2 separate regions of the Homo sapiens genome follow, and region 1 is linked to region 2. Evidence: fine-mapped expression QTL. Tissue or cell type: whole blood. Region 2 holds a variant in brackets; the other region holds the start of a gene. All regions are shown on one strand. Distances are from middle to middle.

What was found. PIP is the estimated chance that this variant, and not a neighbour inherited with it, causes the effect.
Region 1: it holds the start of LIX1-AS1, and the variant in region 2 is the best candidate, but not a certain one, in a credible set for the expression of LIX1-AS1 in whole blood (INTERVAL, PIP 0.67).

Annotation. Positions count from the first base shown.
Region 1 is chr5:97,072,361-97,075,278 of GRCh38, reverse strand. It overlaps LIX1-AS1 (LIX1 and RIOK2 antisense RNA 1), which reads right to left and starts at 1,554. Exons shown (of 8, transcript NR_187470.1): 1 at 1,441-1,554.
Region 2 is chr5:97,151,289-97,154,206 of GRCh38, reverse strand. No RefSeq gene overlaps it. Among named protein-coding and RNA genes, the nearest start is that of LIX1, 10 kb to the right of the region's middle. The variant G/A (reference allele first, on the strand shown) is at 1,704.

The DNA of each region.
Region 1 (2,918 bases), 79 kb after region 2:
GTGTTATGTTAGTCTACACAGGAGCCAAGGTAAAGCCATACTTACCTGGGATTGCATTCCTGCTCTTAAACTTAATGGTTATATAACCTTGGGTAAGTTGTTTAAATTTTCTAAGGCTTAGTTTTTCAATATAAACGCAGAAAAGGCATGTCTAGGAAGAATTAGGGAAGGAAGTAATACCTGAGCCGAGTCTTGAAAGATAAACAGGAACTTTCAAGATAGACTGTTGGGTGGGGCAGGTTAAGAAAAGTGTACCAATGGGAACAACTGTGCAAAGACATGGAGTTGGAAGACAGCATGGAGCTTCAGGAAATAACAAATATTTCAGGGGTGCTGGCTCATGCATCTCTGCTCTACAAAATGGGAGCCCATGAAAACAAAAATCTCCATCTCCTAGCTCAGTACCTAATCCATTATCAGTACTTCACAGCACAGGATAGGTGTTTCAGAAATACTGGTTGAATGAAATAAATGAATAGGTGAATGAAAATATTTAATATTTGCTGCTAAACTAGAGGAAGATCATTGGTCATGTACTGGTTAGGCTGAGTGGCTTAAACAACAGAAATTTATTTTCTCAAAGTTCTGGAGGTGGGGAAGTCTAAGATGAAGGTGCCAGTAGATTTGGGTTTTAGTGAGGGCTCTCTTCCTGGCTTGCAAATGGTCACCTTCTAGGTGGAGAGAGGAAGCTCCGGCGTCTCTTGCTCTTCTTATAAGGGCAAGTAATCCCACCATGGAAGCTCCATGCTCATGCCCTCAGCTCAATCTAATTTACCCCTCAAAAGGCCTACCTCCTCATAGCATAACATTGAGTGTAGGGCTTCAACATATGGATTTTGAGGGGACACAAACATTCAGTCCATGATAGAGACTTAATCGCCTTGTCTAAATTCAAGATACTCTATCTCCTTAGTCGTATATGTAGGATTAGGCTTTTTTCTTTTTTTTTTTTTGAGACAGAGTCTTGCTCTGTCACCCAGGCTGGAGTGCAGTGGCTCGGTCTCGGCTCACTGCAAGCTCCGCCTCCGGGGTTCACGCCATTCTCCTGCCTCAGCCTCCGGAGTAGCTGGGACTACAGGCGCCCGCCACCACGCCCGGGGCATTTTTTGTATTTTCAGTAGAGACGGGGTTTCACCGTGTTAGCCAGGATGGTCTCCATCTCCTGACCTCGTGATCCGCCCACCTCAGCCTCCCAAAGTGCTGGGATTACAGGCGTGAGCCACGCGCGCCCGCCTAGGGTTAGGCTTTATATTCTGTACCTCACTCCAGATACCACATCTTGGGGATAAAAATAATATCACAATGACCACAACAGTATCATTCTCTGGCTCTGTCCTTCACTTCCCACTTCTAGAAGTTCCAACTCTCTCGAATTTCTCCCGCACTTAAGATACCCCCAGGGCACAGCTCACACTTGCTCACAGGCGAATTCCTTCTTACCTTCTGGCATCTGCCATTATCTCTTCTCCTGCTCTTTTGTGCTGTGTCTGATGAATTCTGTGGCTGCTGATACCAAAAGCATCAATAGTCCCTCAAAGATGGTCAAGATGAAATGGGAGAGTTTCCTAACCCCCTTCACAGGATGTGTGACAGGGGTGTGGCTCATCTGTTCAGCCTCTGTGCACTCAAACCCCTTACTGGAGGGGGAGCATGCAGACGGGCAGGTGCAGGAGGCGGGGCAAACACTTTTGGGCTCCAGCCCCATGGTAGTAGCATCCAGGGTGGGTGCCTGCAACTCCCAAAGCCCCAGTGGGCATGTTACAGTGCTCTTTTAGCTCTGCCGTCCACAGACAGCTCAAGTGTTATCCAGCCCAGTGCCCTCTTGGTACCTGGATGCTGGGTTCTTGTCCAGCATCCAGGAAGAATCAGGTCACACAGGCAAATTGAAGGATAGTGAATGCAAGAGATTTTATTGCCAGATGGAGGTGGCTCTCAGTGGAATGGCTGGGGAGTGGGGAAGCGAATGGAGTAGGAAGATGTTCCTCCCCTGGAGTTGGGTCGTCCTGCGGCCAATCTCCTCTCCGACTGTCCCCAGCCAAACTCCTCTCAACATTCAGATGCTGCTTCTCTTCCCTCTTTCTCTACCACGCTGCTCGGCCACACTGCTATTCTTCTGTTCCTCTGCTCTTCTATTCGTCTGCTTTTCTGCTCATGGAGCCTGCAATTTGGGGTTTATATTGGTACAAGATGGGGGGTGGACATGGTGGGCCAAAAGGCAACATTTGGGTGCAAAAACAAGAATGCCTATTCCCATTTAAAGTCATGGGTTTCCAGGCTTGAGGGTGGGGCCTTTGGGAGGGAACCTCCCTCTTCTACCCGGTATTTCCCTGCCTCCTGTCTGTATAAATGCCACCACTGGTGGCCAAGCCTGCCAAAATCGCAGCTGCTCCTGCCATTGCCAGGAAACTAAGACCATCAAGGGATGAGGTCTACTCCCACATCTTCTCAATTCAGGATGAGGTTTGCCCACTTTCCTGTTCAGGCAGTAGCCCCAGAGCTGCTGTCTGACACTCAGGCTGCAAAGCTGTGCTGACCTAAGCTCTAGCTGCCTTAGCAGATATCCAGGAAACAGCTTCTCTGGTTTTTACGGAATGTTTTTTGAAGTCTTTCTCCCAAGGACATGAGTCCACAAGGGCTGAGTATTAAACTTCTCCCTCTTTAACACTGATCTGTTGACTTTGGACCAAAGCTCCATACTAACATGCCTTTTCCACTACAGAAGACACTCGTTTTCCCTCCCAAATCCCCCAGATGGTGACTGAATGTCGGTGCAAACTTAACTTTGGCTCAAGTTGGGATTCCCGCTTTGAGGTGAAACTCCCACAGGCACAATACAAACTTCTTTTGTGCCTCTTTTCTACTCCATGATACTAGACAAATGGTTAATACTTAATAACAATAATAATACTTTTTAAATG
Region 2 (2,918 bases):
CAAAACTAGAGTAATCACATTATCTGACTTCATATTGCTGAAAAAATTAAGTGGATAAAATTCAATATCCCTTCATGATTAAAAAAAAAACTCTCAAAAAACTGCATACAGAAGGAACATACCTCAACATAATAAAAACCATATATGACAGACCCACCAACTAGTAGAGCTACAGTAACCAAAACAGCATGGTACTGGCATAAAAACAGACATATACACCAATGGAACAGACTAGAGAACCCAGAAACAAATCTGTACATCTATAGTGAACTCATTTTCAACAAAGGTGCAAAGAGTATACATTGGGGAAAGAACAGTGTCTTCAATAACGCTGGGAAAACTGGATCTCCATATGCAGAAGAAAAAAACTAGACCCCTGCCTCTTACCATGTACAAAAATCAAATCAAAATGAATTAAAGACTTAAGTCGAGGACCTCAAACTATGAAATTACTACAAGAAAACATTGGGAAAACTCTTTAGGTCATTGAAATAGGCAAAGATTTCTTGAGTAATACCCCAGAAGCACAGGCAACCAAAGTAAAAATAGACAGATGAGATCACATCAAATTTAAAAGCCTCTGCACAGCAAAGGAAACGATCAACAAAACGAAGAGACAACCCACAGAATTGTAGAAAATATTTGAAAACTATCCAACTGACAAGGGATTAATAACCAGAATAAATAAGGTGCTCCAATAACTCAATAGGAAAAAAAATTTAGTAATCTGATTTAAAAATGGGCAAAAGATCTGAATAGACATTACTCAAAAGAAGACATACAAATGACAAACAGTTGTATGAAAAGGTGCTCAACATCATGGATTATCAGAGAAATGTAAATCAAAACTACAATGAGATATCTTCTCACTCCAGTTAAAATGGCCTTTATCCAAAAGACAGGCAAGAACAAACACTGGGCTGGGCACAGTGGCTCATGCCTATAATCCCAGCACTTTGAGAAGCCGAGGCAGAAAGATTTCTCAAGCCCAGGCATTCAAGACCAGCCTAGGCAACATGGCAAAACCTTGTCTACAAAAAAAAAAAAAAAAAATTAGCCAGGCATGGTGGTGCATGCCTGTGGTCCTAGCTACTGGGGAGACTGAGGTGGGAGGGTCACCTGAACCTGGGAGTTCCAGGCTGCAGTGAGCTGTGATCATGTCACTGCACTCCAGCCTCTCCAACCTGGGTGATAGAGTGATAGAGTGAGACCCTGTCTCAAATTAAAAAAAAAAAAATGCTGGCAAGGATATGGAGAAAATGGAACCCTCATACAATGTTGGTGGGAATGTAAACTAATACAACCACTATTGGAGAACAGTTTGGAGGTTCCTCAAAATCTAAAAATAGAGTTACCATATTATCCAGCAATCCCACTGCTAAGGATATACCCAAAAGAAATAAATTCGTATATTGAAAAGATATTCGCACTCCCATGTTTGTTGCAGCACTGTTCATAATAGCTAAGATTTTGAAGCAACCTAAGTGTCCATCAACAGATGAAGGGATAAAGAAAATGTGGTACATATACACAATGGAGTGCTATTCAGCCATAAAAAAGAATGAGATCCTGTCATTTGCAAAAACATGGATGGAAGTGGGGGTCATTATGTTGAGTGAAATAAGCCAGGTACAGAAAGACAAACTTCACATGTTCTCACCCATTTGTAGGAGCTAAAAATTAAAACAATTGAACTCAAGGAG[G/A]TAAGAGAAGAACAATGGTTACTAGAGGCTGAGAGGTAGGGTTGGGAGAAAAATGGGGATGGTTAATGGGTACCAAAGAATACTTAGAATGATTTAGACCTAGTGTTTGATAGCACAACAGGTTGACGACAGTCAATAATAATTTATTATACATTTAAAAATAACTAAACAACTATAATTGGATCATTTGTAGCACAAAGAAAGGGTAAATGCTTGAGCTGATGAATTCCTCATTTACCCTGATGTGATTCTTATGCATCATATGCCTGTAGCAAAATATCTCATGTATCCCATAAATATATACACCTACTATGTACTCACAAAAATTAAAAATAAGAAATTTCTTAAACTAACATTTTATATAACATTTACACTTAATTGCATAAGTAGAAGTATGCCTCATATTTAAAATATTACTTGGGACATTTATTACAAGACTATGTCCTTCTAGATTTTAAAAAAGAAAAGATAACTATTTGAAATAAATGAATCACCAGGCATGGCATGTGCCTGCAATTCCAGCTACTTGGGAGGCTGCGGTAGGAGGATGGCTTGAACCCAGGAATTTGAGACCAGCCTGGACAACATAGTGAGACCCCCAAATCATTTTTTTAAATTAAAAAAAAAAAAACTTTAAAAAAAAGAATTAAAAAACCCTCTTACTATAATGCTACTGTTGGCTGAAGAGGTTTGGCCTAGATTAGGAAGAAAATGTACATGTTCACACATCAGTAATTCAAGTGTGTGGGGTATATAAAGTGATATTGGGGAGGAGAGTACACAGATTTTCTTTTTTTTACGATAAACTTTTGCTGGCTTGGAGGCCGCCCCTGTTTTTTTTGAGAGACAAGAATAAACACATGGAACAACTACATGACAATATAGAGAAGGCTGTACCCAAGAGCCTGGTATCACTGATAATTGCTGGGGAAATTCCAAGCACAGTCTGAATGAAAGGGCAGCATAATTTGGTGAATTGTTTTGGGGAATGAAGGTTTGGGTGAATAGGTGAACTAAAAAAGAAAACTTTCAAAGAGGAAATCATGCAGAAAATTCAGAAGACAGAAATGAATGTCGTGTGTTTGCTGTGCTGTAATTGGGAAAATGGTGTTTTGGTGTTGTGAGAGCAAAGGGCCAAATTCAAGCTTATTTTGAAATATTTTTTAAAGTTGATTATTAGGAAAAAGTGACTGTAGATTTTGAAAAAATACTGCA